Linked DNA regions of Homo sapiens: regions 1, 2 and 3 are each reported to be linked to region 4. Evidence: microRNA targets listed by miRTarBase, many of them from high-throughput screens and not tested one by one. Region 4 holds a microRNA gene; each other region holds the end of a gene's coding sequence.

Region 1 (8,220 bases), not on the chromosome of region 4:
CTGAGAGTAGCCTAGTCTCAAATTCAGCCTTATACTCAAACCATGTGAACTGAGGCTGGGCTGTTCAGAATGGGTTGATTGGGGGTAACAGTGACTATAGAATGACAACTGGCTACTCCAGAAACTTCTAGTAGCATGAAGAGAGACTTTTCACAGAAATATGGGCATTTCTTGCTATAAATTTCCCTCTTGGAATGGCTTCTGCTGCATCCCATAGGTGTTTGGTACATAGTTGCTATTTGTCTCAAGATTTTTTTGATTTTCTTTTTTATTTCTTCTTTGACCCATGTTGTTTAATTTCTACTTATTTGTGAATTTTCCAAGATTTCTCCTGTTACTGATTTCAAGTTTCACACCATTGTGGTCAGAAAAGATACTTAAGGTAATTTTGATCCCCTGAAATTTGTTTAGATTTGTATTGCAGCCAAACATATGATCCATCCTGGAGAAAGTTCTGTGTGTACTTGAGAAAAATGTGTATCCTGTTGCTGTTGGATGGGATGTTCTGTATATGTCTGTCAGGTCATAAAGTGTAGTTCAAGTCCAATGTTTCCTTATTAATTTTCTGTCTGGATGGTAATCCATTATTGAAAGTGGGGTATTGATGTCCCCTACTATTATTGTATTATAGTTTCTATCTCCCTTCAGATCTATTAATATTTGCTTTATATATTTAGGTGCTTCATTCAATGTTGGATACATTTATAATTATTGTATCCTCTTGATGAATTGACCCTTTCATTGTTATATAATGTCCTTTGTCTCTTTTATTGCTTCTGACTTAAAGTTGCTTTGTCTGATGTAGGTATAGCTACCCTCTGCTCTCTTCTGGTTCCATTTGCATACAGTATCTTCTCATTCCTTCATTTTCAGTCTATGTGCATCCTTAAGAGAGTTGAGTCTCTTGTAGGCAGCATACAGTCGGGTACTTAGGTCTTTTTTTTAATCCATTCAGCCACTCTGTCCTCATATTAGAAAATTTAACCCATTTACATTCAAAGTAACTACTGACAGGTGAGAACTTATTACTGCCATTTTGTAATTTGTTTTCTGGTTGTTGGGGATGTATTTTGTTTCTCCCTGTCTTGCTGGATGGTTTGTGGTTTGACTGCTGTAGTGGGATGTTATGAATAATCCTTTCTATTTATGTTCTGTGCATCTACTATAGATTGTTTTCTGGTTATCATGATCTTTATAAAGAAAGACATTCACATTGTCATATTCCAAAGGCTTACAGCTAACTCGGTAAGGGTGTGAGATTCATAACTGAGAAAAGAAAAACAAAAATTGTCAAAGAAAACAAGAAGTTTCAAGGATGCATTTAAGCAGAGTGAGTTACACCTCTTGAGTAGGAGCCAAGTTTTTAAGGTAATTAAGGGTAGGTTCTTTGTTTAGAAGATGTATGTTAAAATTAAGAGCTACAATCTGGAATCCTTACAGCATCTGATATTTGCAAAGCGTGTGTGTGTGCGTGTGTGTGCATGCGTGTGTGTGTAAATTGCACAAATAGCATCCTACATTTGGCACATTACTTTTTATTTTCAGACTATCCTTTGGGATAGATGAAGGGTTCCTCTGAGTCATATTTTATAAATTTCTTGGCTGCCCAAAAATTTCAAGAGGAAATTTCACTGTTGGTCAAAGATCCTAGGATGGAAACTCACTAGCCTGCTGACACTGGTGAGGCATGCCCACCAGAGCTTCAGGGTAGAACAGCTGTTCTTTGGACTACTTGCTGTGGTAGGAGTAAGGAATTTGCAGAAAACGTGCTTGGGAGGAAGGAAGTGGTCTTTGCCATGCAGTGTAAGCCTACATTTTCCTTTTTCTCATTTTGCAAGTAACGTTTTGCTGGCATTCTTTTGTATGCATTTGTTACTCAGCTATTGATATATCACCCAAACACATAAAAACAAAAGCATAATTTGTATGTATACCTGAAACTTAAGATCATCTTCCTGGTAATCAACTCTTAATTTTTACATATATATAAAGTATGTATTATATATGTATTATATATTTTATGTATGTATTATATATTTTATATATGTATTATATATTACATATGTATTATATATATATGTACTATATATTATATATATATAAAATTTTCTTTTTTGGAGATAGAGCCTTGCTCTGTCATCCAGGCTGAAGTGCAGTGGCACCATCTCAGCTCACTGCAACCTCTGCCTCCTGGGTTTAAGCCTCCTGAGTAGCTGGGACTAGAGGTGGGTGCCACCATGCCTGGCTCATTTGCATTTTCAGTAGAGACAGGATTTCACCATGTTGGGCAGGCTGGTCTCGAACTCCTGATCTCAGGTGATCCACCTGCCTTGGCCTCCCAAAGTGCTGGGATTATAGGTGTGAGCCACCATTCCCGGCCTACTTCCATATTTTTAAGTAACCTAAACCTTGAGAAAAAATGTAAGGAATCACATAAGCTTGAACTTTCAGATCAGACTTTCTCTGTATTCCACATTAAGAAACCCTCTGGAAACTGTTTCTGAAATGCTACTTACAACCGAAGCCTCTTTCCAAGCCTACTCCCACCACCCTAGGTCAAGTGTTCCTACTGTGTTGGCACCATAGCTATGCCAATTTAAACGTTATTCCTGTGATGTCCAAATATTTTCAGCCTCCTGGGCACGTGGGAGGATTGCACTTCCCAGCCTCCTTGTGACTAGGTGGCTCCGTATGACTGGTTTTGGCCAGTGACTTGTGAGAAGTGGCATCTGTCACTTCTGGGCCTCAGCATTTCATTGCATTTTCCCTCTGCCACAGCAACTGGCAACTTTTTGATAGTGGGGTAATGGGACAAGGAGATACGGAGCCATGCCTCCAGCCAACCCACAGTGGACACTGAATGTGAACAAGAAATGTCTTGTGATAAGCTATTTAGGCTTAAGGTCATAACCACAGCATAACCCGACCTATCCTGATTGATATACTCCATCCTAAACACTGCCACCAATTAATCTGGTCCTATCACTCCCCTGTCCAAATGACTATCTCTATCAATACAAACCCCTTCATTCTATCATTCAAGGTTTTTTTGTTGTTGTTGTTTTTGAGATGGAGTTTTGTTCTTGTTGCCCAGGCTGGAGTGCAGTGGCACCATCTCCCCTCACTGCAACCTCCGCCTCCCAGGTTCAAGTGATTCTCCTGCCTCAGTCTTGGAGTAGCTGGGATTACAGGCACCTGCCACTGCGCCCAGCTGATTTTTTATATTTTTAATAGAGATGAGGTTTCACTATGTTGGCCAGGCTGGTTGTGAACTCCTGGCCTCACGTGAACCACCCACCTCGGCCTCCCAAAATATGGGGATTACAGGCGTGAGCCACCGTACCCAGCCTCATTCAAGGGTTTTTACAACTTGGCCTAAGCCTTTGCTTCCAGGCTTAGCTCTCACTTCTGCACTCAAGAGTACATGGACTTCCTAAGAATTAAGCATACCTCATGTTATCCTCCTCCTCAAATGCCCACACCCAGCATCTACAACTAATGAAGAATGGGCAGAATTTATGTCCCAGCATGATTTTTGTTGAGCATTCACTGTTGATCCAAGTATTAATGTCTTTCATTAATGGCTAAGATTTTCTACACTGACCTTCCCAGTTCTCTCTAGTCCCCCTTTCTGGAACTTCCATTAAACTGAAGCTGGATCTTCTCATTTTGTCCTTGATTCCTAACCTCTCTTTCGTATTGGAAACATCACTTTATCTCTGTGCTGAGGCTAATTTTCTCAAGGGCTATCTTCCAGTTTACCAATTTCCTCTTCAGCTGAACAATCCAGGTTTTCCCCCAGGGTTACAGCACTGTGTAGTGTTTTTCTAGAATCTAGATTTTGGTTTCTTCATTTTGGACCTCTGGGCATTTTTTAAAATTTTCTTGTATTCTCACCTATGCATTTACCAGGTGTTAATTTTATATTAAGCATCTCTGGGTATTTAAGAGTAGAAAGACTTTCAGGTTATTTATAAAGCCATAGTGCCAAAAACAAAAATTCTGTATCATGTTTTGTACATACTTTTTATTTGTTGAATAAATGAATATTTGTCAATATGTACATAACCACATAGAGCGAGCATTAGATTTAGAGAGCAAAATATTTGGGTTCTAATATGCAAAGCCACTTACCAGCTATGAGGGCTTCGGCAAAGAACTGAATCTGAGCTCAGCTCCCTCAACTGTAAAACTAGGTTATTCGGACCTATGTGGCCTACCACACAGGCTTATTGCAAGGTTCAAATGCAGAAACATATGAAAGTGCTATTATGAATACAACTTAGAGCAATACAAACAAAACAAGGAACAGCAATGGAATTTCAAGCTGAAATTCACACCCTCGGATTGTACCCATGTACTGATGGAGTCAACAAGAAAGTGACAAAATAGCTGATTACTAATGAGAACGAATATGCCATTCTTCTGAGTGGGAAGAATTCTGCAACACCCTGTAGCTTGTCGCTGCAATTAATTACTTCCCAAACTTCACAAAGATGTCAGAGACCCACCATCAATAATTCTCTCACAGAAGCACAAGGGCCAAATGTCCCACGTTTATTTACATATGAAATGTGTTTCATACAGTTATGATGGATGGAGTGCATAACACCTGACAGCAGCAAGACCTTTTGAGGAACCGAACATTGACTACAGTATATCATGCAAGTATCTATATATACACAAAAGAATTCCTTTTCTTAAAAAAAAAAAAAAAAAAGGTACAAAACATGTTCAGGGATAAATACAAGATACAAAATGCAAAAGAAAACACAAAACAAAACCAAAAAATAGAACTCTCTCAGAGAACTATAAACGGAAGGGACAGAAGAGTACCTCTGCTGCATTTTAATAAAGCAGAACTACCGACGTTAAATATACTTCTTGAAATGGCTGAACTAAACCCGGGTGGCTCAGTGCTTAAGGTAACGGCCAATTGCAATACACAGGCGGCTGCATTGATAAGTCGGTGGTTGAAGTTGTGCATCCCGACTCTAAGTACCATAACGTTTGGCAGTAGCACCCAGAACAGGAAACGCCAACTCTTTTGACAGCAAAGGGTTAAGTCAACTGATTTTTTTCTGTCAAGAGCCAGAGAAATACTTGATATTCTTAGCTGTGTTTCTGTAATAGTTAGTTAATAAATTACATGACAAAAACCTGACTATATAAATCTATTGGTCTAACTACGTATTTGTAACTTTTATAGTAGTCCAGCCCTTTCGTTACTTTCCCTCCTTGTGCTCTTAAAGCCAGCCTTGCAGATCTGCCGAGAAAACAAATCCCATTTTTTTCTTTAGAATAGCCTTCCCCATTCCTCAAAATGGAACTGAGGAAATCAGCATTCCTTATTAGATTCCTAGCTTCAGTTTTTATCCACGGCTGGGAAAGGAGCGACCTGCAAGACTGCTTTAAACACCCTTCGGCATGGCCTGAAGACAAAGGCACGTCCACACTGGAGTGCAGTTGTCTCAAATGTGAACTCACTCCCTCAGGGCAGGCACATCGAGGAAGTGCTAAGACACTTAAAAGTTCCTAGTGTTTTTGAGACCCACAATTACTTACAATTTATGTAGTGAATTCTAAAAATTAAAAACACTAAAAAAGGCATTATTTTAGCCTGTAATTAGTTAACCCATTCAAAATCCAAACATACAAAATGGTTTATTTGAATTCAGGAACTGCCCCTGTTACTAAGAACTCTGTTTTAAAGAAACAGTACAAAAAGAAAAATTCTAACCCAAAACAACTCAAATGGTTTTCCACTAAATACTGATACAAACATGTAACAAAGAGTATAAAAAGTTATTCATTTAAATATATACAAACTCTTTTAAACTCAAATACTGTTTTAATACTTATCGAGGATATATACGACGAGGTGAAGGAAGGTACATTGAAAGAGAATATATTGCAACAGCCTAGACAGTACTGTTAACTCTATTATACTGCAAACTTTGTAACAAAAATGTCTTTTTTATTCCAATGTGGACAGGGATTTTCCTCATGGAGCATCTGTGGCTATTTCTCGGCTGAGCTCATCCTTTTGGATTTGATGAAGGCCATGCCGTGTGTCCGCATGTGAGTATTTAAGGCAGCTTCAGTTTCAAAAGTTTTTGCGCACACTTTGCACTTTCTGTCTGACACGGCGCCATCAGGGGATTCATCCTCGTGGCTGGGTTTGTTCTCCTGTTGGTTATCTTCCCCAGCCCCATTTTGCTTGGACACTGGCTGAGGTTCCTTTAACTTGTGTACGATGAAGAGGTGCCTGGACAGAGAGACGTGAGACGTGTAGCAGAGGCCACACTCCCGGCACTGGTAGGAAGAACCATCCGATTTGTGCTGAGGGATGTGTTCGTGGAATTGCAGCAGGTTTTCGGTGGTGAAGCCACACACGGCACACTTGTGAACCTTAAAAACATTGATTTTCAGCTTTTTCAGTGGTTGAGTGATTGCTCCTCGGGGAGGCCTGAACTCCAGAACTGGTTCTTCCAACTTCCGCTTGGGACTGGGGACCTTTCAGGGAAAGAAAGCAAATGACACGACTGAAAACCATCCTTCACGGTGGTTGATAAATGATCGGTTCTCTTACTTTAGAGCTGCCAGGAAAACTTGTGCTGAACGCTTTGGGATTTAGGGGCTTTAAAGCTGTGTCTGCCACCCCACCCGGAGGCCCATGCCTTTCTTCCACTCCACAGAGAAACCTAGTAGCTGTTAGCAGGCATTGCTCTGCCAGTGGGGCACAACAGTGGACAAATGAGCTCCTAGCTTCCTGAAATTTGTGGCAGCGGAGTTAGATGAACAGAAACAAATGAGAAAATATGCAGTATGTCAGACCCAGGACAGCCAAGCAGGGTGGGATGAGGGCCATGGGAAGCAAGGGGGGGGTATATGTGTGGCTGCTAGGTGATGTGGTACGGTCAGGGACAGCCTGGTGACAGGTGACATTTGAAAAGAGACCTGACGCAGTGTCGGGAAAGCAGTCCAGGCATAGGAAGCTGTGAGTGCCAAGGCCCAAGGTGGGAACAGGCCTGTGAGTGGGCAACAGAAGAGGGGCTAGAGCCAGTAGGAAGGAGTGCTCAGGGAGACTGCAGGAGGTGAACTGTAACGCCCCTTGTGGGAGAGAGTGTCAGGATTTTGCTTTTAGACTGAGAGCCTCTGGAAGCTTTCCCCACCCTTTCCTGCCTCCTCACCTTCACACCATTTCCCCTACTGCGTCTGCTTCCAGGGCTCTAAATCCCACTCTGAATCCCCTCCCCAAGCCAACGTGCCCCTCCTCTCCGCACTCTGTGCCCCAGCTTTTCTGCTCTGTTCATGTGCACCTTCACACGTGGCCATGACCTGAAGCTACCTTTGCACACACTTTCTTTTTTTTTAAGACGGAGTCTCGCGCTATTGCCCAGGCTGGAGTGCAATGGCATGATCTCGGCTCACTACAGCCTCGGCCTCCCGGGTTCAAGCGATTCTCCTGTCTCAGCCTCCCAAGTAGCTGGGACTATACGTGTGCACCACGATGTCCAGCTAATTTTTGTATTTTTAGTAGAGACAGGGTTTCACCATATTGGCCAGGCTGGTCTCGAACTCCTGACCTCGTGACTGCCTGCCTTGGCCTCCCAAAGTGCTGGGATTACAGGTGTGAGCCACCACGCCTTGGCTTCACACATATTCTTTAACTCACCACCAGGAGCACTTGAAGTATTGCATTTTAATGCCACATCAGTCTGACTTATATTCTGAGGAGGTTTTACTCGATGATTAACTCCTTGAAAGCACATACAAGCTTTTACCTGGGTACATTCCAGATCTAGCATAGCACCGAAGACAGGAGGGCTTTTTAAGTATCTGCTAACTTTTTTTGGGGGGGTGGAGACAGAGTCTCGTTCTATTGCCTAGACTAAAGTGCAGTGGCGTGATCTTGGCACACTGCAACCTCTGCTTCCCAGGTTCCAGCAATTCTCCTGCCTCAGCCTCCTGAGTAGCTGGAGATTACAGGTGTGCACCACCACGCCTGGCTAATTTTTGTACTTTTAGTAGAGACGGGGTTTCACCACGTTGGCCAGGCTGGTCTCGAACTCCTAGCCTCAAGTGATCTGCCCGCCTCAGCTTCCCAAAGTGCTGGGATTACAGGCATGAGCCACTGTGTCCGGCCTAAACTATTTCTTTAAACTTTTCTCTCAAAAAAACAAAAAAAGTCCTGCTCTTGTCCCCCAGGTTTGGGTG
Region 2 (8,220 bases), not on the chromosome of region 4:
CCGTCACGTGACCTTCTGTGTGTGTGTTTCCGTTTCTTACCAGGACATCAGTCATGGAATTAGATGCCACCCTAATCCAGTATTACCTCTTCCTAACTAGTTACATCTGCCAAGACCCTATTTCTAAATATGGTCACATTCAGAGATTCTGGGGATGTTAATTTCTGGGATGCGGTTGGGGTTGGGGGGTGCGGTGTGGGTCACTCTCCAACCCAGTACAATCATATAGTGCCCAGCTACTCTTTTTTCCAAAGCTCCATGCACACGCACATGTGCGTGCACACACACACACACACACAAATGTATATATAAATGTGTGTGTATATATATATATGAGTTTTCCTGGAGTGCTGGTTATCTAAGCCTGTGCTGGGGACAGCTTTTTGGGAAGTCTGCTACATCCCAGTTAGATCTTCTAGATTTCACGGGAATGTCACCAGGTTCTGTTCCATCCACTTGGACAGTAACTATTCTTGGACCGAGTCTCGACACCTAGAGGTGAAGTTTGTGTGTGTTGGAGAGGAACCCAGGTAAGGCACTTTCCCCCATGACTGAAATATGAGGGGCTCATGTCAGGGCACGTACTGAACAGAGCTGGATTCTCTTTTCTTTTTTGTCCAGCACAACACCATGGAGTCTCTGTTAGAGCGAGGTGAGAAGCTAGATGACTTGGTGTCCAAATCCGAGGTGCTGGGAACACAGTCTAAAGCCTTCTATAAAACTGTGAGTACCCAGCACCTGCTGCCTCCTGGGTGTTCTCTCTAGAGAGCAGTCGCAGCTTGCTGCTTCTGGCACTCTCCACTATGAACGGGTCTTTCTTAGACTGTTGAATCATGGTGGATGATTCCTTGTGCGGCAAGAGCCTAAGGTGAGCGCCTCAGGCCCAGGTGGTTGGAGGCAGTTCACTTGGGCGCCGTTGGAGTCGATGCGGGCCGAGGCCTTGTTCCACTCCTGCCTCTGCTCTGCCCTCTGCTGCTCTGGCTGATTTCTGAACTCCTACTCCCAGTCCAGGAAGGCTGGTTCAAGTTCTGATCACCAGAGATTTACTGTTGAATCTTATTCCTCTTTCTGCTGAGTAGACATAAGTCTTTAAGATGCAAGCAATTCAGCCTTCCTGAAGAGGTTCTTAAGCTTTTAATTTCCCTTTGACAGAAAATATTTAATTGACAAGGATGGGTGCTGCTGACTGCCGCTTTCTCTCAGGTCAGTGCTCATGTCTTCCTATGTGGAGATGGCACTGTTGGCCCATGGTTGGATAGTCATAGGGACAAATTTACTTGGTCTGTCCACACACATTTGCTTTCATGTGCACATTGGAGGGAGATGGCTAGGTGGGATTAGGAAGATAGTCTGTGACCAGAAAGCAAGAGAGAAGGTGGCAACAGTGGTCCCCACAAACCACATCCCAAGTGGGAACCACATCTGTTGTCCTCAGGACCATCTTCTAGGAAGAAACACCACCGTGGTGGTCAGATAGCATTGTGTGAAGACAGGAGTGGGGCAAAGTTAAGATATTCTGCCAATCCCATTTGTATTATTGGTCCTTTGTTTGTACCTGGCCTAACTGTAGGAATTTTACTCACTTTTTGATAGCATTAATGGGGTGTGAGAAAAGAAAGGAAAAAGGATCCCAGACTAGTTTTGGAAGCCGGGGCCCGCCTTGTGCTTGGTGATGGGAATTGCTTGTGGACAGCTTCCCTCAAGGCCTCCACCCCCACCCTGTTCTAGTGCTAGTTTCTCTGCCTGGCTGTGTCCTGTGGAGCTCCCTCTGCCACGCCTGCCAGGATTGGGGCTTCCCTTACTTCGTCAGTCCTCCTTCTCAGCTCCTCTTTGTTTTTTTCCAAGGCCCGGAAACAAAACTCATGCTGTGCCATCATGTGATGCAGCCTGCCAGAGGCCCAATGCTGGAATGGCACCATCATTCACATCAGAACTGCAGCCCCTGGAAAAGAAGAGACAGCCATAGACGAGGAGCCAGAGTGGGGGCAGACTGGCCATTTTTATTTTGAAGTTCCTGCGAGAAATGGATGGTGGAAGGGTGGCGAATGTTCAAATTCATATGTGTGGTAGTGATTCTTGGAAAGAATTTGAGGTCCCCAAAGGTGTATTTTTGGGCAAATGAAACCATAAACTCCGACTGGCTTCTGTAGATGCCAAAGGGCTCTTTTTCAGCTAACCCTGGGAAGGCTCTGTGGGAGGGAGGTCGGAGCCAGCTGTTTCTCGATCTTTGGTATATCTTTGGATCTTATTTGTACATTAATGATATTAACACTCCAGTGGGGGGTGGGGAGTCCCTGATGCTAGGGCTGGGGTGGGTGGAGTTTGAAGACTCTTGGGAAAGCCTCTCCTGGGGCCACTGTTGGGGGTGGGAGTGAGCCCACCACAGAGGCCACAGGCAGGCCCCCACTTCAGGCCCAAGGCCTGGGGCGGGGGGAACAGTCACTGGGTCTCAGATTCTGAGACTGTTGTTTAGCTTACCTTTCTGCTAGGATTGGCTTCCCGCAGAGGGCAGGGCCCATCCTAAGCAGCTTCCAAGTCCCACAAAGGTGGCTTGTGGGAGGATTTGGAAGGAGCTGCATTGTGGGCGGGGAGTGTGTGGGTTGGGTTCGTACCAGCAAGTAGACTAGGAACTGAGCCCAGGAAAGGGGGATGTTTTCCTGGTGTTTGGATGGTCAGCTGGGAGTGTCCATCATCAGGGGAAGATCAAACACAGGTGCACTCAGCTGCCCAGGGCCTCTGGGACACTTGCCTTGACTTGCAACTTGCCTTGAACATCACGATCAAAGCAGCAGGTGCTGTGGTCTCTCAAAATTGATTTTTATTTGACTCTGTGGCTCTAAGACTGCCTTGAACCGCCTGAGGCCTATGCATCTGAACAAGTGGGTCTCTCCCTTGAGCACCAGGAGTGGGTGCCAGCCGGCCCCGAGGATTCCCAGCACCCCACCTATGGTCTTGCCAGCATAGGCTTGCTAGTTCCTTCTTGGTCAGAGGTAGCTGCAGAGGGGGGAGGCCAAGGGTTTGGTCTAAGCTGTGCCCTGCCACCTGGCAGGAGGCCCACTCACTGCCCAAGTCATGGCAACAGGCTGGAGCAGCCCAGGAGATGGGCCTAAAATGTTCTGGATCCCTTGGGTCCTAGTGTTATGTTCCAGTCTGCCCACCTGTGCTCAGGATGCAGCCCTGGGATCCAGCACCCATGGAAGCTTCTGCTGGGATGGTGTCACCTATGGGTTTTGAACCAGTGTGGTATGGTCCTTGGGAGCTCTGCTCTGAGCTTGCCACACTGCTGAGAGCACCCACTGTCCTGACCAGAGTCTCAGTGGTCCTGACCCCCAATGTGGGCAGGGGCTGGGCAGGAGGGTGGGGTCTGCTGTGGGTTCAGAGGACTCCACCTCCTGGCTGGTTTACCTGCTGCTGCCCATTTTCTCTGGGTACTGCTGGCCAGAGGACTTTAGCCTACCCCTGAAGAGCCTGTCCATGTCATTTTCCTACTGCCATAGATACCCTAAGCCCAGGGCCCCTTGAGGCCCAGACTCAGCCTGCCCACTGGTGCCGGAGACGGAGTGGAGTGGGCCTGGATCCGAGGGATGCTACCTCTCCCTTTCCCACTTGAGGACCCTGGGGAGAGATGGGGGCGGGGAAAATGGAGGTATGAATTTGGGGTAAGAGGAAGTGAGATCTCCGCTTGCAGGTCAGCCCCTGCCTTGCAGGGCGGGCTGGCTTGACTCAGGCCCTGTGAGATAGAGGGCCCAGCCCAGCCCCACCCACAGATCCCCTGCTCCTGTTGTGTTCTGTTGTAAATCATTTGGCGAGACTGTATTTTAGTAACTGCTGCCTAACTTCCCTGTGTTCTATTTGAGAGGCGCCTGTCTGGATAAAGTTGTCTTGAAATTTCACAGTGGTCCTGTGCTTTCTTTGTGCTTCAGGGGAATCCTTTCTTCACCAAGCCCTTCCCCCGGGGGAGAGAGTGGCCTCATGCTGTGTGCCTGTGGGCCTGCCGCATGCAAGGGTCCAAGTTATCCTGACCAGCTCCTGTCCAGGAGAGGTAGCTGCAGGCCTGACTCCTTCACCTCCTTTCTATAGACCTTGCTAGCAGGAACTGTATTTTCTTTTTTGCTGTTAACCAGGTGAGGGAGCCCTGGAGTAGAAGAAGCCCTGTCATTGCTGAATCCTGTTGCCTGGTCTTAGCTGCAGCCAGGAGACCCACCCTAGGAAAGCTGCCTCATAGCTGCAGAGCCATGGGACAGGAGGCCCCATCCCCATCCTGATCCCGCTGTAGGCTTCCTGTCCCTCACCGCTGACCCCAGGGTCAATCTGAGACCACCTGGCATCCCACCAAGCACAGGTGGCAACTTTTCAGGAGCAGAGGGGGCTCCACAGGGTACCTGGAAGCTTCCTGGTTCCTGGAGGAGCCAAAGCTGACCCCTGCTTTGGTTGGGAGGTGAACCAGGGGTAAGTCAAATTCAAGTCTCACATCTGGTTTTGAGTTCAGGGAACCCTCTGAAGCCTCTGTAGCCTCCCAGGGAGGCGGGCCCAAGGCTGCTTTCAGCCTGTACTTCTGATCCTGGAAGGCAGAGACCTCTCTGACTGGCCCAGCAAGCAGCCTTGGGCAGTGCTCAGCTTTTCCTGTTCTGAGGACCTGCCAGACCTGGGTTGGGGTGGGATGGGGTAACCCTTAGGGTCATGTGGCCCAGGGAGCTTTGTTCAGAGGGTGCTATTTAAAAGTGATGAATGGGCCGGGTGCAGTGGCTCATGCCTGTAATCCCAGCACTTTGGGAGGCTGAGGTAGGCAGATCATTTGAGGTCGGGAGTTCGAGACCAGCCTGACCAACATGGTGAAACCCCATGTCTACTAAAATACAAAAGTTAGCTGGGCATGGTGGCGGGCACCTGTAATCTCAGCTACTCGGGAGGCTGAGGCAGGAGAATCACTTGAACCCAGGAGGGAGAAGTTGCAGTGAGCCAAGATCGCGCCACTGCACTCCAGCCTGGGCGACAGAGTGAGGCTCCCTCTCAAAAATATATAAAAATAAAAGCGATGAATGAAATGCCCGTCGGTGGTGTCCTTTTTGCCTGTAGCGCTTGGCCCAGTACAGGGTGGCTTAGCCCTGTGTGCTGTGCCCTAATACCTCATCAGAGTTGCTGCCCTGATGGCATCTGCAGAAGGGCCTCAGGAATAATGCATGTGAGGGCGCACGATCCGCAGTGCCTGCAGCCTTCCTGGGGGAGGCCTGGCCTGGAAAGCCTCCTCCGATTACAGCTGATAGGCAAGTGGAGCCCTAGATACCATGCTGGGGACAGACACTGCAGCACTCGTGGGCACTGGCCTAGATTCTTTGCACCTGGCTCTTGGGACCTGCCACCTGCCCACCCACACACCTGAGAGCACCTGTCCAGGTGCAGACCATGGGGAGCAAGAAGCTGACATCCAGGGCCACTCTGCCGCGTGAAGGTGCTCAGGGTGGAGGAGGAGACTGAGGGCTTTAGCCAGTTCTGGGGGATCCTTCAGGCTCCTTGCCCATAGTGGATAGGACTGAGAGTGTGTAGGGGCACTCGTCTTGTCAGAAGTTACTTGGACCCAAAATGCAGGTGTGTTTAGTGTCTGGGACTGTTTTGAAGCCCATCCTTCTGTTTAGGAAAGTGCCGTGGCACTGCCTGGGACACAGGTGTGGAGGGGAGCCAAGGGCAGGGCCACACTCTGAGCAGGTTGCCATGGAGACATGAGGGTGCATCAGGGGGCCCAGCGGGGGCCACGAGGGTGCGTCGGGGAGGGAGGAGGGCATTGAGGCTGAGAAGGGCCAGCATAGCACAGGCAGGTGCAGTTGCTTTCCCAGGCTGGGCCTGAGCGTGTGCCCCATGGGGCCAGGCAGCATAGGTGGTGGGTGGAGCCTGAGGACAGGAGAAACTTGGCAGGGGGTTACTCCTTACTCCAACCTAAGAGTTTGCGCTTAGCTTGGGCTGGAGATGCAGAGGGAAGGCCTCAGGGGTGCCTGTCTCCTTCACACCCAGGACGAAGTCCCCAAGCCTGGCCTGGCCCACAGGCCTGTAGCACCTGGCCAGTCTGGCCTGGTATCTGGCTTCCCTGTCTCCATTCCAGCTCTCTGTCCTGGATTCTGGGCTGGTTGTGTGGCCTCTGCTGGAGCCTCCTGGCCCCCATGGTGGCTGCCTACTGTATCACCTTGCGCCTTGCCTATGTCTGGTGCCCGAGGCTGATGTCCACACAGGCCTGCGTGCCATCTGTCTGCATAATCCACTGGGGTGGAGCCCGGCTCTGTGGTCACTGTGTGTCCTCAGCATCCAGAATAGCCAATACATGTAGCAGGGGCGGAAGGAAACAGCAGGACAGCCAGAGGTCTTGGTCCTGGGGCTCCTTCCTGCCCAGAGGCTGCCCTGGCCACATCCTTAGCGGCCACCGGGGGTGAATGGAGAGGTCAGGGGTGTTGGGGGCTGGGATCCAGTTTCAGTTCCAGCATTCAGGGTGGACAGCGCTGGGCCCAGAAGACTTCAGAGGACCAGAGGAAGAGGTGGAGACAGCTGGTAGAGCTATGATCTATGACTAGTGCCCTACCTGGGGTGAGCCGTTCACCCTAGAGGGGCTCAGGACTGTCAGGGCCAGCTCAGGGCTCCCATAGCACTACCTTTCATTGGAGGAGGGGCCCAAGTAGGGTCTTGGCCAGGGACCGGGCTTGAGTCTGTATTTTGGCGCAGGAGGTCGGCAGGATTCCAGCTAAAGCACCCAGCTGCACTTGAAGCAGTTTGTCCTGTTTTTCTTTTATTTGCAGTTTCCCGAGACAGAACAAAATAAGAATAATTTTTGTACACTTACAAGGCTCAGAAAGAAAAGACAATGAAACTCAGCAAAAAGAGAGAGGAGGGGAGGCCAGCCAGCACCGTGGGCAGCCGACCCCTTGCAGCGCTGGCCAGCGGCCGCCACCACCACACCGCGGACACCTAGCTAGCAGACCGGTGTGGCTTGCTCTTTAGGGGTCATGCAAAAGAATTATCCCCCAGAAAAAAAATCCCCAAATTATCCCAGACAGGCAGCTCCGTGGAGGTGACAAGGTGAGAGGGAGAGGAGGGGAGGAGGCCCCAGGACGCCAGGGTGGCCGGCTGCTGGGCCACGTGCTGTCCGTGGTGAGCCCTGCCGCTGTCCCATGGCCCAGGGAGCCACTGGTGCGGAGCCCGGCAGATGTTTACCCTGTGTTCATGGATGGGGACAGCTGTCCTGGGCACAGCGTGGACGGAAGATGGTGTCCACTCTGAGTGTTCATCGGTGGACAGTCCCCTTGGAGTTTAGGATCCTGTGTCCTGTTCCCCATTCTGTGCCCCTCCCTTGGCTTGATTTGTAGGGGAAGATAAAGAAAATCCTTGTTGAAAACAATGTGAATTGAAAGTGGGCAGGCACTGGGGCAGGAGCCCCTGACCCTCTGCAGTCAGGGCTTGTGACCACCCCCACCCAACCTGGCTTCAGACCCACCCTGCAGCCCCACCATGCTCGGGCTTGCCCTGTCCCCGAGCTCCCCCATGGTACACACCATCACAAGGGGCCGGGGACCCACCGCCTCGAACCCAGGCAGCCGACGCTCAGGAGCACAGGGCTAGACCCTGCCCTCCATCCGCTGGTGTCCTGGGCCCTGTGCCCACCTGTTTCTGTCCCCAGCCCGCCTTATCTCCATAGCTGCATCCCTGGCCCACCTAGAAGGTGCCCTCACACGCACTGCAGCCCGCCAAGGCACTGGCACACCTGACACTGCACGGGCAGCACTGCCCTCACGCCTCCCATGTGCCCTAGGCTGGCTCCCACTGTAGCTTTTGCTCCCTTCTGCTCCCGGCCCAGATTCCAAAGGCACTCCCACTTCAGTAAACCCCTGCACAGACCCTTGTCTCAGCCCAGAAGCTGGGCAGCCACCACCTCTGATCCCGCTCTGCCACTAGCTGCACCACCCGACCAAACCCCAAGCCCCAGGCTTCCCCAAACCCCATCAGCAGACGAATATGCCCAGACACAAAGCCTGGCCTCCCCTCCCAGCTTCAGCTGGGGGCTCAGGGACTTGAGCGAGGCCCGCAGTCCTTTGTCAAAAGTCTGCTCCCCCTTGCGGGCTGCAGAGAAGCCGAACAGGCTGGGGGAGGGCCGAGGGGCGGAAACAGGGTTGGGAGCTGCCAGTGCATCTGCTGCTGGCCAGCAGAGAAGGGACAGACACCTCACACAGGAGGGGGGCCAGC
Region 3 (6,585 bases), not on the chromosome of region 4:
GAGGGGCTTCCAGCTCTAGGCTACCCGCCTTAGCAAAGCGTGTGACCAGGGGGATCGGGTCACAGAAAGAGCTCAAGCCTCGCCAGCAGTGGCCCTCCTGGGGGCGGGGCTTCCATTCCTGCAAAAGCCGTGGCACCCACCGGGATGGACTCCACTGAGCTGGCCTGGCTCTCATTCCTGCTGTCTCTGGAAGCCAGAGACGCAACAAGCCCGCCACCGAAAACCTCTCCAGGGGCCGTGCAACCTCCTGGAGCACACACTTAGGGAGGCAGGGGTGGCGAAGGTGAGAGGTGGGCATTGACGTCCTGGTGACTCCCACATTCAGCAGAAACTACGTATGGCTCCCTGCTCCCCCACGTATGCAAGCCCAGTGCAGCAGGGCTGAAGCAGCACCGACTTCAGGGTCACTCAGAGAAGCGTCAGGGGCCCCTCGGCTCTGGCCTGCCCCTCGGCAGTGTGGTCTCCCACGGACGAAGGCTCCACGTGCCGCACGGGTCTGGGCTGATCAAATCACCTCTGTCATCACCTGCTTTAGCAACAGGGTGGGAAAGGCCGGGCAGTGCCTGGATGAAGGCACAGGAGGCCCCCTACCTTCTGTGAGCGCCCCCCGTCCCCCGCACAGCGTGCCTCAGTTTCGCCACACTCAACGGCCATGGACCTGAGCCCATGAAGCTCAAACCACGGCCCCAGCACCCTCAGGTGACCGAACTGCATGCTGGGAATAAAACCAACTCATGCACCTTGACCAGTACCGGCCCACAGAACCTTCCAGATGATGCGCACACCTCCCACCGATGCTGGTCCACACCAGCCACCAGCCATGTGTGGCTCCTGGGCACTTGAAATATGTCTAAAGGGAAAACACAACTCAATTTTTCTCTTTTTTTCTTTTTCAGAGACAGGGTCTCACTCTGTCACTCAGGCTGGAGACTCCAACTCCTGGGCGCAAGCAACCCTCCTGCCTCAGCCTCCTGAGTAGCTAAGACCACAGGTGCATGCCACCACACCCAGCTAGTTTGTGTATTTTTGGTAGATATAGGTTTTGCTATGCTGCCAAGGCTGGTCTTGAACTCCTGGCCTCAAGTCATCCTCCTGCCTCAGCCTCCCAAAGTCCTGGGATTACAGGCATGAGCCACTGCACCTGGCCCCAGAATTTTCTAATATTACTTTTTAAAAATGTTCCCTTAGAAATTCACAGTTTCTATCATTCCACATGGCTCATTTTCTTTTTTCTTTTTTTTTTTTGTTTGAGATAGAGTCTTGCTCTGTCACCCAGGCTGGAGTACAGTGGCACGATCTCAGCTCACTGCAACCTCCGCCTCCTGGGTTCAAGCAATTCTCCTGCCTCAGCCTCCCAAGTAGCAGGGATTACAGGCATGCGCCACCATGCCCAGCTAATGTTTTTGTATTCTCAGTAGAGACGGGGTTTCACCATGTTGGCCAGGGTGGCCTTGAACTCCTGACCTCAAATGATCCGCCCACCTCAGCCACCCAAAGTGCTGGGATTACAGGTGTGAGCCACCGCACCTGGCCGATTCATCTTCATTTGTTTCCCGCCAGCCCCAGAACAGCCTGGGGCAGACATTCTTGTTTCTTTTGTTCACTTGTCCATTAGCAGTGCTCTAAGCGCAGAGCCCAGCACACAGGAAGTGCTCAAGAAAAGGATTGTTGAATGAATGAATGAGCCTCATCCAGAACACAAAATTCACCCAACTGCACTGCTGAATCCTTTGGTCTCTGACTAGCTTCCACCTCGTAAATCAGGAGTGGACAAGCTTTCCTGCCAAAGGCTGGAGTCTCTGCTCCCACTACTCAACTCTGCCCTTCTGGTGTGAGAGCAGCCACTAACCGTATGTGAATCATTTGGCTGTGTGCCGTAAACCTTTACTTACCAACACTGAAATCTGAATTTCATACCTCTTTCAGGTGTCAGAAATGTTCTTTTTCACCCACCCCCATTTAAAAATGTGAAGTCCATTCATAGCTCCCAGACCTTAAAAAAACAGCCAGGGGCAGGGTTTGGGGGGCCCTAGCTTACCACCTCTGTTTTACTTTATTTATTTCTATTTATTAATTATTATTATAATTATTGAAACAGAGTCTCACTGTGGTCCAGGCTGGAGTGCAGTTGCGTGATCTCAGCTCACTGCAACCTCCGACTCCCAGGTTCAAGTGATTCTCCTGCCTCAGTCTCCTGAGTGGCTGGGATTACAGGCCCATGCCACCACACCCGGCTAATTTTTGTATTTTTAGTAGAGACAAGGTTCCACCATGTTGGCCAGGCTGGTGTCCAACCTCTGACCTCAAGTGATCCACCCACCTCGGCCTCCCAAAGTGCTGGGATTATAGGCGTGAGCCACCGCACCGGCCACTTATTTATTTTTGAGACACAGTCTGGCTGTGTTGCCTAGGCTGTATCCTCCCACTTTAGCCTCCAAGAAGCTGGGGCTACAAGTGTCCACCACCACACCCAGTAATTTTTTTTTTTTTTTGAGACAGTCTCGCACTGTCACCTGGGCTGGAGTGCAGTGGTGCGATCTCGGCTCACTGCAAACTCTGCATCCCGGGTTCAAGCGATTCTCCTGCCTCAGCCTCCCGAGTAGCTGAGATTACAGGCGCCTGCCACTATGCCCAGCTAACTCTGTTTTGTTTTTGTTTTTGTTTTTGTTTTGTTTTTTCATTTTTAGCAGAGACGGGGTTTCACCATGTTGGCCAGGCTGGTCTCGAACTCCTGGGCTCAAGCGATCCTCCCGCCTCATCCTCCGAAAGTGCTGGGCTTACAGGCCTGAACCACAGCGCCCGGCCTCCACCCCTGTCAGAAGAACCCTCTGAAAATCGGTCCCACTCTACGGAGGAGTAGAGGGAGACTCGGAGAGGATACGGACCGTGCCCATGTTGCGGGGGTTCCCAGGGCGTGGGGTCAGGAGTTAGGGGTGTGCTTCTCTCCCGTCCCCTTGCTGCCGGGGTCTCAGGTCCGCTTTTCCCCGGGACCGGGCTCCCCCTACCTTCCGGGGCCAGGATGGTGAACACTGGATCCTCTGCCGGCGCACCCCGCACATCCTCCAGGATCTGCTCCACCGTGGGGGGCGCTGGGCGGGTGGGCAGCAGCACGCGCTTCTTTGCCTTGGAGCCCATCTCTGAAGGCGGGGAAGGGGGCGCTGACCGGGGCGTCCACCTCTCCGCCCTTGCCCGGGCTGCTCCTCCCGCCCAGCGAACTCGTACGCACCCGTCGCGGTCCCGCTCCCGGGGAAGCCCGCCCTGTCCCGCCCCTCTGAGCTCGCCCCAGGCCCTGACCCTCCCTCCGCCCAAAAACACGGTGGCCAAGGCTTCAGGGTCTGGCTCAACCTCTGCCTCAGTTTCCCCGCGGTCACCCCAGTCGCCGGCCTCTTCCCACCTGGGCGCGGGACCCGAAAGCCCAGCGTCGACGACGCAGCCACTTCCGATTCCGGTCGGAGCACCGCCCCGTCCCCGAACACGTGACACACACTTCCGGCCTCCTCTCCCGCCGGCCCGCCGCTCATCGCGGGGCTCCGCCCCGTCTTAAAGGGATAGTGCCCTTGAGACTCGGATCTCAGCCTCTCAGGCGAACCCGAACCTGGACGCGCTACGATGAGAGCGAGTTCGAGTCCAGGCTCCACTGGCTGGGTAGAAAAGCATCCGAGGCTCGTCTTTCTGAAAAGGGGAACACGGCACTAGGGGACACGCCACCCATGTGGCTGACGGGAGCACAAAATTGCTGTCCACCTAAGGGAGCCTGGTGGTGCATGAGCACTCGGCGGCCGGAACACAGCGGGGGCGGGGCGGTCGCGGCGCCTCCACTTCCGGCCAAGGCGGGTCCTCCCACCTCGGGGACGGTGCTGGAGGTCACCTTTTCCTCTCCGCTGATGCCTGGGAAGGCAGAAAGAGCAGAGGGCCCTTTTCCTCTCTCAGGGGCTTTATTGAGATGCAGTTTACATACCATAAAGTTCTCCTGTTTATTTCGTTTTGTTTTGTTTTTTTAGAGACAGAGTCTCACTGTGTCGCCCAGGCCGGAGTGCAGTGGCGTGATCTCAGCTCACTGCAACCTCCGCCTCCCGAGTTCAAGCAATTCTCCTGCCTCAGCCTCCCGAGTAGCTGGGACTACAGGCGCCCGCCACCACGTCCGTCAAAATTTTTTTTTGTATTTTAGTAGAGATGGGGCTTCACTGTGTTGCCCAGGCTGGTGTCAAACTCCTGAGCTCAGGCAATCCGCCCGCCTCAGCCTCCCAAAGTGCTGGGATTACGGGCGTGAGCCACCGCGCCCGGCCAAATTCGCCTGTTTAAACTGTAAATTCAGCCTGGGCGCGGTGGCTCATGCCTGTAATCCCAGCACTTTGGGAGGCCGAGGCGGGCAGATCACTTGAGGCCAGTTTGAGACCAGCCTGGCCAACATGGTGAGACCCCGTCTCTACTAAAAATACAAAAATTAGGCTGGGTGTGTTGGCTCACGCCTGTAATCCCAGCGCTTTGGGAGGCCGAGGTGGGTGGATCACGAGGTCAGGAGATCAAGACCATCCTGGCTAACATGGTGAAACCCTGTCTCTACTAAAAATACAAAAAGAAAAACAAAATTAACCAGGCATGGTGGCGGTTGCCTGTAGTCCCAGCTACTCAGGAGGCTGGGGCAGGAGAATGGCATGAACCCGAGAGGCAGAGCTTGCAGTGAGCCGAGATCGTGCCACTGCACTCCAGCCTGGGCGACAGAGCAAGACTCTGTCTCAAAAAAAAAAATATTGTTGAGAGAGAAGGAAGGAAGGAAGGGACAGAGAGAGGGAAAAGGAAAGAAAGAGAAAGAAAGGAAAGAAGGAAGGAGAAGAAAAAGGAAGGAAGGAGAGAGAGAAAGAAAAAAAAGAAAAAGGAAATAAAGAGAAGAAAGTAAAGAAGAAAAGGGAGAAAAGAAAGGAAAGGAAGGAAAGAGAAGGAAGAACGGAAGAAAGGAAGGCGAGAGAGAAAGAAAAAGAAAAGAAAGAGGAAGAAAGAAAAAGGAAAGAGAAAGAAGGAAAGAAAGAAAGAAAAGGAAAGGAAGGAAGGGGCCAGGTGCGGTGGCTCAAGCCTGTAATCCCAGCACTTTGGGAGGCCGAGGTGGGCGAATCACGAGGTCAGGAGATCGAGACCATCCTGGCCAACATGGTGAAACCCATCTCTACTAAAAAAGGAAGGAAAGAGAAGGAAGAAAGGAAGGAAAGAAGGAAGGAAGTAAAGAAAAGGAAGGAAGGGAGGGAGGGAGGAAAGGGCCAGGCACAGTGGCTCACGCCTGTAATCCCAGCACTTTGGGAGGCCAAGGAGGGAAGATTGCTTGAGGCCAGGGTTCAAGGCTGCAGTGAGCTACAATCGCACCACTGTACTCTAGCCTAGTCAACGTAGGGAGACCCTGTCTCAAAACAAACAAGAAAAAAAACAAAGGAATCACCGCAGGAGAGGATTCTGGGCCATGGTGAGCCATGTTCTGGGGCTGGACATTACTGCTGACCCCCGGCCATTCCCTGCTGTTCCCACTGCCTGGGGTCCCTGGGCCTGGGCGGACTCTTTCTCCGTGGCCGGCTGCATTCTCCATGGACTGATGTCCGGGGACCCCAAGCAGAAACCACCTGAGCCCTGGGGCCTCGGGCCCACCCTGCTCCAGAGGAGGCCACAGACTGAGCACCTTCTAAGCAACCTTTATTTGCAAACTCTGAGGTTGGACGCGGTGCCCGAGGCGGACAGTGTCACGTTTCTCTCCCTCCACTTTCCCCTGGCTTTTGGGGTGCTCCAGCCTCTCCCCCCAGCCCACTCCCGCCCAAACCCAAAATGCAGAGGAGACTTCTCTCTCTCTCTCTCCCGCCAGGCTTCGGGGTTCCACGGGGCCCATCCCTGGCAGGCCAGGCGTCGGGTGCTGGTGCTCGCTCCTCTGGGGCCAGCCTGGGGAGGCAGCATGGCAGCAGTGCCTGTCAGGGACCCAGGCGGGGGCAAGGTCGCTTTCTGAGCTGACAACTTCAGGTTCCAGCTGGCAGCCAGACCTGGGGTTTGGTGGGGGTGGCCCTGGCACGGGAGAGCCAGGCGTATAGTGGGAGGTCCATGGACATGCCGCAGAGGACGGGGCCTCCGAGGGTCACGGCCAGGAGGCTCAGCACCATGGCCGAGGCTGGGCAGCGGTGGTGGGGACAGGCGGCAGCTCTAAGCCGGGGGCGGCTGTCGGGGGTGGTGGGTCCCATGCAGGAGCCCTGCTGCTGGTCCAGCGTGGAGGATGGGGGACAGGAGGTGCAGTCCCTCGGGGAGCCGCCGCGGCAGGTGTAGCAGGAGGCATGGCAGCTGGAGCAGACCCTCAGCGCGGGCGCCGCCGTGTGCCCAGGCCCAGCGGTCACCAGCCTTGTGTGGTTGAAGAACCGCGGGGGGCAGTAGGCCAGGCAGAGCTGTCCCAGGATGTAGGCGGGGCCGTCACACGCTGCTCGGGGACACGCACGCAAAGGCCCGTCAGCTTGCCACCCGCAGCCTGTTACTCGCCACCCGCCCGCCTGGGGCCACATGCACGCTGCCCACGGTGGCCGCCACCGCCTCCCAGCAGTGGGCCCTGCCCCGCCGGCACTCACC
Region 4 (8,220 bases):
TGGCCCTGAAAATGTTACCCACATCCACCAGAAAGGTCTGGAATGGAGACTGGGGGTCACAGTAAGTAGATAGCTGCTGAGAAAATGGGTACATTAGCTGATGTCCATTCTTACAAGAACACTCTCAAGAAGCTTTTGTGGAAACAGACCGTTTTTTATAGGGTTTTTAAATGCGAAAGCAAATTAACTACTACGTGCCATTAAATACAGAGCTATACCTGTGAAAACCCTTGAGTGGTAACCCAGGAGGAGGCAGAAGCAGGTTTGAGGTATCCCACCTCCACTTCAGAGACTAAAACCTGGGCCACTTATTACCTAAGGTAACACCTAAATGTCAAAAGGCAAGGACGGAGCCAGAGAGCAAAGCTTGCCTGTGAATACAAATGGGAACAGGCTTTCAAAATAAAGCTGAGGTTCAGGTTCCAATACTCCAAATGCCAATCAAAAGACTCATTTATTTTTTAAATATGTGGGTGAGAGTTGAGAATTACATCTGAAAGGCCACTATCCTGGAATAAGCATAGAATCATCCTGTAGATTTCTGAATATGCTTGTCTGCCTCAGCTTTGGCTTAGTGAGTTGGGCTGTGTGTGTGTGTGTGTGTGTGTGTGTGTGTGTGTGTGTGTGTGTGTGTTTTAGAATAACATGAGGAGGAGGCATTGCTAATTGAAGTTTTCATAAACGAGCATCTATTTGTGATTTTTTTTTTCCAAAATAAAAATTCGGGTGAAAGAAAAAAGAAATGCTCAGACCTGGCCCTGAAAATATCTATCAAAAGTGGATCTAGGGAGTGGAGATAGAATATTTGTAATTAAACCCTTGAGTGGTAATTACAAGGTGGTTGGGCGCGCTGGCTCACTACTGTAATCCCAGCACTTTGGGAGGCCAAGGCGGGTGGATCATGAGGTCAGGAGATGGAGACCATCCTGGCCAACATGGTGAAACCCTGTCTCTACTAAAAATACAAAAACTTAGCTGGGCCTGGTGGCGCGTGCCTGGAATCCCAGCTACTCAGGAGGCTGAGGCATGAGAATCACTTGAACCCAGGAGGTGGAGGTTGCATTGAGTCGAGATCGTGCCACTGCACTCCAGCCTGGCGATAGAGGGAAAGTCCGTCTCAAAAAGAACAACAAAAAAAAGAGGTTGGGGGGATGAATTTTAGGTCTAAAATTTTGCCATAAGTGGAACAATCATTGATGACAGTGATGAACTTTTATGTCAACACTTTGAGGAAGGGGTCAAACCCAGAAGGCTTTCTGGAGACAGCCTCCCTGCTAATAAAAGTTAGGATGCTTTGGTTTAAGAAGTCTCTGATTTCTGTTAGTGAAGTTCTGGTGATGCCTTTAGTAGCTAGTGGCAGAATTTCCTCCTAACACCCGGCAGTTGAGGGGTGGTCTCTAACTAGGGCAGCTTACAAAGCAGATGACCTTGTTCTCAAGTGGGTAAGTTCAGCTCACTGCCAAGGAAAACTCTCACTGTCACCATGATCACCCTGCTATACCAAACAGCCACTCTGAAAGCCAGTTATGGGTAGAAGTCCTGCTCAGGGCTCAGGAGAGCAAAGCCTCTCTCCTTCCTGGCTGGGCGCCATTTTGTTTCTCCCGGGGAGAAACTCAGAACAAAGGCAAGAACAGAGCTGAAGAGAACCAGGGGCAGACCCTGCCAACAGAAGATAGTTTCATTAAAAAAAAAAATAGGGACAGCCTTGTTCTTTGCTGTAGGCCATGGTTATTGCTGTTTGGGTTTTGCTTTTGCTTGTGGTAAGTAGATTATTGCAGAGAACAGAATAATTCAACCTTCTGCTCTGCCTTTGAAAAGTTCTTATAGAGAAGTGTCCCCAGGCTGAAATAAAAAATGAGTCCCAGCAGGCCGGGCGCGCGGTGGCTCACGCCTGTAAGCCCAGCACTTTGGGAGGCCGAGGCGGGCGGATCACCTAAAGTTGGGAGTTCGAGACCAGCCTGACCATCATGGAGAAACCCCGTCTCTACTAAACATACAAAATTAGCTGGGCGTGATGGCACATGCCTGTATTCCCAGCTACTTGGGAAGGGTGAAGCAGGAGAATCACTTGAACCCGGGAGGCAGAGGTTGTGGTGAGCCGAGATCACGCCATTGCACTCCAGCCTGGGCAACAAGAGCGCAACTCCATCTCGGGGGGGAAAAAGGGTCCCAGCCCTGAATGACATTGAGTCTTTGGAATGTATTTAGATTGCCTTTTTGGTAAGTTCCTTTCTCTAATTTTGTAAAAGTGCCATGTGCATTCAAAAAGAATATGTAATCTGTTGGTTGAATGTCAGATTCTATTCATATCCGCTAGTTAAAGTTTATTAATTGTGTGGTGCAAATCTTCAATAGCTTTATTTTTTGTCTCCTTTATTCATCAGTTTCAGAGGCAGGAATCTTAACATCTCCACCTACACTTCCTGGTTTATCTATTTTATTCTCTAGTTCTGTCCATTGTTGTTTTAAATACTTGAGGTTGTGTTGATAATTGTATAGAATGTAAATTCTAATGAAGATAAGTATTTCTGTCTGTTTTGGTCTCTGCTATCTCCTTCAAACCTAGAGCAATGCCTAGAATATTATAGGCATTCAATATATTTTACTGGCCGGGTGCAGTGGCTCACGCCTGTAATCCCAGCGCTTTGGAGGCTGAGGCAGGCAAATCCCTTGAGCTCAAAAGTTGGAGACCAGCCTGGACAACATGGCAAAACCCCATCTCTACAAAAAATACAACAAAAAGAAATTAGCTGGGTGTGGTGGTGCACACCTGTAGTCCCAGCTCCTCAGGAGGCTGAGGTGGGAGAATGGCTTGAGCCCAGGAGGCATAGGTTGCAGTGAGCTGAGATGGCGCCACCGCACTCCAACCTGGGTGACAGAGTGAGTCTCTGTCTCAAATATATCTACATGAATAAATGTGCTTTCATAATTGTTATATATTCTAGAACTATTATTCCTTTTCTCCGTATGTATGATTCCCCTTTGTCCTTTATGATATCTGTAGTTTTTAATGCTGTTTTGTCTGATATTAAAATTGCTGCCCCAGCTTTATTTAATTTATATTTCCTGATATATCTTTTTCCATTCATTTAATTTCAGCTATTCTGTATTCCTTAGTTTTAAGAATACAAAATAGATCAAGGACATGGTGGTTCATGCCTGTAATCCCAGCAATTTTGAGAGGCCTAGGTAGGAGGATTCCTTGAGCCCAGGAGTTTGAGATCAGTATAGACAATGTAGCGAGACCCCATCTCTACAAAAAAATATTAGCCAGATGTGGTGGTGTGTGCCTGTAGACACAGCTACTTGGGAAGCTGAGGTGGGAGGATAACTTGAGCCTGGGAAGTACAGTGAGGCTTTGAGGGTACAGTGAGCCGTGATTGCACCATTGCACTCCAGCCTGCCCAACAGAGCAAAAAATAATAATAATATAAAATAGCTGAAAGTAGACAATAGCAGTCTGGGTCCTGATAGGTGAGTTTGGCTCACTTATATTTGTTGTAACTACCATTAGGAATTCATTTTGCCATCTTATTTCCCATTTTCTACTAACTGTAATTTCTTTTTGTTTTCTTTTTTTCAGACTATTGACAATATCAAATGTCTCTCTGCTAGTTTATAAGCTACAAATTCTAAGTTTATTCTTCTGGTGATTACCTATACCGTCAATCAATTTGTTAAACTTATCAATACCTATACTGTGGCAGCTCGTATTTTCCAAAGATGGTCCCAGCAATATCCCCCGTGTCAATACTATTCTATGTCCCACAATCGTATTCTACAATGGCATATTGACACTCCTCCCATCCAGACAGAGTTAGGGGTGGAGGGTCTATATCCTCTGCCTTAACTCTGGGCAGACTTGTGATTTGAGTGTAACTTGAATGCATTGTAAGTGACACTCAATGACTTCCAAGGCTAGGTCCAAAAAGGCGACACAACTTCTACCTTGCTTGTTGGATCATTGGTGCTGGAGCCCTGAACCACCATTTTTAAAGTCCAACTATCCTGAGGCTGCCATGCTATAAATAGCCCAAATAGCCCACGTAGAGAGGCCAATTAGAGAGGCCCTGAGACCGTGTGAAGAGAGAAGAATGCCCAACCAGCCCTCAGTTGCTACAGTTCCCTGTTGTTTCAGCTCGACAACAACAGGCGGCTGTAGCAATGGGGGGCTGGATGGGCATCTCAATGTGCTTCTCCCACATTGCTTCAGCCACAGTCTAATTGTAACCACATGAGAGACTCCAAGCCAGAACCACTCAGTTAAGCCCTTCCAGAATTCCTGACCCACAGAAATCATGAGAGATAATAAAATGATTGTGGTTATTTTAAGCCACTAAATTTTAGAGTAATTTTTATATGGACATAACAACTGAAATAGATACATTTGCCTTAGAACAAGAAAAGTACTATATAGCATGTTCTAGCATCCTTCTCGTTTCTACCCACACTGCTACTGTGTTGATGTCCCTAGAATTTTGCTCTGGATTGATATGAATGTACTTGGTAGAATGGTGTCTGTTACCTTTTTGTTTATTTACTTATCTTTTAGCAACAGGGTGTCACTCTGTCACCCAGGTTGGAGTGCAGTGGCAAGATTATACCTTACTGCAACCTCAAACTCCTGAGCTCAAGCAATCCTCCCACCTCAGCCTCCTGAGTAGCTGGGACCACAGGCACAGGCCACCACGCCAGACTAGTTTTTTGTTGTTTTGTTTTGTTTTGTTGTTTGTAGAGACAAGGTCTCCCTATGTTGCCCAAGCTGATCTTGAACTCCTGAGCTCAAGCAATCCTCCTGCCTCAGTCTCCCAAAGTGCTGGGATTACAGGCATAAGCCCCCACTCCCAGCTCACTTTTACCTTTTTATAGAGCAATATGCATACTAAGTTATGAAATCTATCCTGCTGAGGATTCTGAATCTATGTATCATAAATTCTGAAAAATTCCTAGCTATTATGTCATTGAACATTTCTTCTCCCACATTGTCTTTATGCTTTCCCTCTGGAGCTCCAATTAGTTATATATGAGAATTTTTTATTCTATTCTCCATATCCTTTCACCTCCCTTTTCTTTGTTTCTCTGTGCTGCATTCTGGGTAATTCTTTGACATCACTCTCTGGTTCAATAATTTCTGTTTAACTTATATACTGAGATTTTTTATTTCAATGACTCTGTGTGTGTGTGTGTGTGTGTGTGTGTGTGTGTGTGTGTGTGTGTGTGTTTTGTTTTTTGACATTTCTTTTTTTTGTTTTGTTTTGTTTTGAGACAGAGTCTTGCTCTGCTGCCCAGCTTGAAGTGTAGTGGTGCAATCACATCTCATTGCAGCCTCAAGCTCCTGGGCTCAAGCTGTCCTCTTGCCTCAGCTTTCTAAGTAGCTAGGACTACAGACTCACACTACCACACTCAGCTAATTTATTTATTTATTTATTTATTTATTTATTTATTTATTTATTTATTGTAGAGACAGGGTCTTGCTATGTTGCCCACACTTGTCTCAAACTTCTGGCTTCAAGCAGTCTTCCCATCTCAGCTTCCCAACGCTCCAGGAATATAGGTGTGAGCCACCATGCCCAACCTCAGTGACTATATTTTTTTATTTCTAGAAGTTCAATTTAGTTTCTTTTAAAAATATACATGCATGTTCCTTTTCATAGTGTCTGTTTTTTCCTTTATGTTTTCATTGTTTAAAAACATAAGCTTTTAATCATCTTAAACATGCTAATTATGGGCCAGGCATGGTGGCTCACACCTATAATCCCAACACTCTGGGAAGCCAAGGCGGGTGGATTGCTTGAGCCCAGGAGTTCAAGACCAACCTGGGCAACAAAAGGAGACCCCCATCTCTACAAAAAAAATTTTTAAAAATGAGGCAGGAGGATTGCTTGAGCTGGGGGAGTCGAGCCTGCAGTGAGCCATGATTGAGCCACTGCACTCCACCCTGGGTGACAGTGAGCCCCTGCCTCAAAAAAAAAAAAAAAAAAAAGCAAATTTTATGGTCTCTAATAGATTGTTTCATTATCTGAAGTTCTTGAGTGTCTAATCCTGCTGTCTCTTGCTCATAGTGAAATCTTTTTTCAACTGTTTTATATTTTTGAATTGTGAGCTCATCATAAACACGGCTTTATGTGTAGGAATTTTGTGAGGCCTGATTAATGGGGTCTCCTGTGAAGTTTCGTTTTTGTTTTTGCCAAGCTGTCCAGAGGTTTCACTATCATTTTTATAATAATTTATGGCTGGGCACGGTGGCTCACACCTGTAATCCCAGCACTTTGGGAGGCCAAGGCGGGTGGATCACGAGGTCAGGAGTTCAAGACCAGCCTGGCCAAGATGGCGAAACCCTGTCTCTACTAAAAATACAAAAATTAGCTGGGCATGGTGGTGGGTGCCTGTAATCCCAGCTACTCGGGAAGCTGAGGCAGAGAATTACTTGAACCTGGGAGGCAGAGGTTGCAGTGAGCCGAGATTGTGCCACTGCACTCCAGCCTGGGCGACAGAGCAAGACTCTGTCTCAAAAATAAATAAATAAATAAAATAAAATTTCTGAGCTTGGGGCTCCAGCACCACATAAGGAATATATATTTAATTCCAAACCCTCATAAGATATAGTTCAAAAATTTCTCAGGAGACATTTTTTTTTCCCACTTGGAGCCTAGACCATGACAGACAAACCCCTCTGGGTCAATGGGCAGATTTTTTTCTAATCTACCCTCACACAGAGGTTTCCACTTTTACAGAATGTATGTATCACATGTCCAACTTTTTTGCCTTACAGGGACCCAAAGCATCAACTCTTTGTCACCCCCCCACCCACCCCTCCCACGACCTCAAGTGGACATTAAATGGTCTAAGGACCTAGAGTACAGAATCATTGTCTCTCCCCATGTGTCCCCACCCTAAAACAGTCACATAATCATTCACAAGCTCACTGCCCTAGTTTTCAGTACCTTTTTCATTCACAGCCCGTCAATTTCCTGTGTGCTCATCTATTCATTCAAATAAATATTCGTTTATTTCTAGATAACTGAGGAAAATGGGTTTTCAGGTTATCTTGATCACAGTATTTCCAGAACTAGAAGCAAAAATGTATTTATATAAGCAAATATGAAATCCACCAGTTTCTGAGATTTCTGGCCGTGATACTGATATTCTTTACTTAAGTATCTCTGACAGATAAATGTACTGGTTTACATTTGTGCACATATTTTTAAACATTGCAATCATAAGGGCTAGCCACTGCCCTAAGTTTCACTATATGCGATAGTAAAACTCCTGGCAGAATGTTTGGCCTGCTGAATGGAATTGTTCCTTCATAATTAGAACTCTGTCTTAGTATCTCTTCTGTTGGTCTCTACCTAAAAATACTCTTGCCTTTATATTTCAGTAGTACTATTAAGTCATTAACCAGAGAGGTAATTCTGAGTATGAGAAAAACATATATGGGCTTTGGATTCAGGAAGACATGGCTCTGTTTTGCTTCCCAGCTGGGTGTCCTTGGGCAATTAGTTCTATCTGAGCCTCAATTTCCCCATCTGTAAACTGAGGATGATGATACCTATTTTAACTGTATATTAGTCAGGGTTCTGCAGAAAGACAGAACCAAAAGGATACATAGATAGATAGACAGACAGATAGATACGTAGATAGATAGATAGATAGATAGATAGATAGATAGATAGATAGATAAGAAGATATTTATTAGGGGAATTGGCTCACACAATTATGGAGGAAGCAAAATCGCATGATAGGCCATCTGCAAGCTGGAGAACAAGGGAGGCTAGTAACATGGCTCAGTCCAAGTCCAAAGGCCTGAGAACTAGGGAAGCTGATGGTATAACTCTCAGTCCAAGGCCTAAGGCCTGAATAGGGGAGGCCACTGGTGCAAGTCCTGGGGTCCAAAGGTCAGAGAGCCTGGAGTTCTTATGTCCAAGGGTAGAAGAAGAAGGGTGTTTCCAATTCCAGGAGAGAGATGGGGCAAATTCACCTTTCCTCTGCCTTTTTATTCCATCTGGGTCCCCAGCTGATTGGATGGTGCCTGTCCATGTTGAGGACAGATCTTTCCCACTCAGTTCATCGTTCACATGCCCATCTCCTCCAGAAACACCCTCATAGAAACACTCAAAAATAGTGCCTTACCAGCTTTGTAAGTATCTCTGAAAGTAGTTAGGTTGACACCAAAAATTAACCATCACAAAAGGGTTGAGGTTAGAATTAGAAGATAAT

The links. Region 4 holds the annotated microRNA hsa-miR-3937 (ACAGGCGGCUGUAGCAAUGGGGG, at 4,149-4,171, shown strand). A microRNA usually pairs through its seed, bases 2 to 8, with sites in the 3' UTR of a target mRNA and lowers its output. Matches are read on the target gene's strand: a 7mer-m8 pairs with bases 2 to 8, a 7mer-A1 pairs with bases 2 to 7 and ends in A, and an 8mer does both.
Region 1: miRTarBase lists ZNF532 as a target of hsa-miR-3937. Seed matches in the 3' UTR shown: 7mer-m8 at 4,947-4,953.
Region 2: the mRNA of YKT6 is a reported target of hsa-miR-3937. Seed matches in the 3' UTR shown: 8mer at 2,853-2,860.
Region 3: the mRNA of PCSK4 is a reported target of hsa-miR-3937. Seed matches in the 3' UTR shown: 7mer-m8 at 5,955-5,961.

The regions. Positions count from the first base shown.
Region 1 is chr18:58,982,268-58,990,487 of GRCh38, reverse strand. ZNF532 (zinc finger protein 532) reads right to left here. Exons shown (of 10, transcript NM_001375912.1): 10 at 4,008-6,516. The coding sequence ends at 6,022. Among named protein-coding and RNA genes, the nearest start is that of ZNF532, 120 kb to the right of the region's middle. RefSeq lists an enhancer at 5,679-6,878.
Region 2 is chr7:44,210,402-44,218,621 of GRCh38, forward strand. It overlaps YKT6 (YKT6 vesicular SNARE protein), which reads left to right. Exons shown (of 7, transcript NM_006555.4): 6 at 622-723; 7 at 1,846-3,893. The coding sequence ends at 1,881. It overlaps CAMK2B (calcium/calmodulin dependent protein kinase II beta), which reads right to left. Exons shown (of 24, transcript NM_001220.5): 24 at 6,753-8,220. Among named protein-coding and RNA genes, the nearest start is that of YKT6, 14 kb to the left of the region's middle. RefSeq lists enhancers at 3,740-4,655, 7,065-7,612, 7,613-8,158 and a silencer at 7,899-8,211.
Region 3 is chr19:1,475,769-1,482,353 of GRCh38, forward strand. PCSK4 (proprotein convertase subtilisin/kexin type 4) reads right to left here. Exons shown (of 15, transcript NM_017573.5): 14 at 6,585; 15 at 5,660-6,439. The coding sequence ends at 5,991. C19orf25 (chromosome 19 open reading frame 25) reads right to left here and starts at 3,447. Exons shown (of 3, transcript NM_152482.3): 1 at 3,395-3,447; 2 at 3,006-3,137. The coding sequence starts at 3,135. RefSeq lists enhancers at 2,632-3,132, 3,494-3,613, 6,456-6,585 and a silencer at 3,224-3,273.
Region 4 is chrX:39,657,128-39,665,347 of GRCh38, forward strand. MIR3937 (microRNA 3937) reads left to right here and starts at 4,089; the gene lies at 4,089-4,194.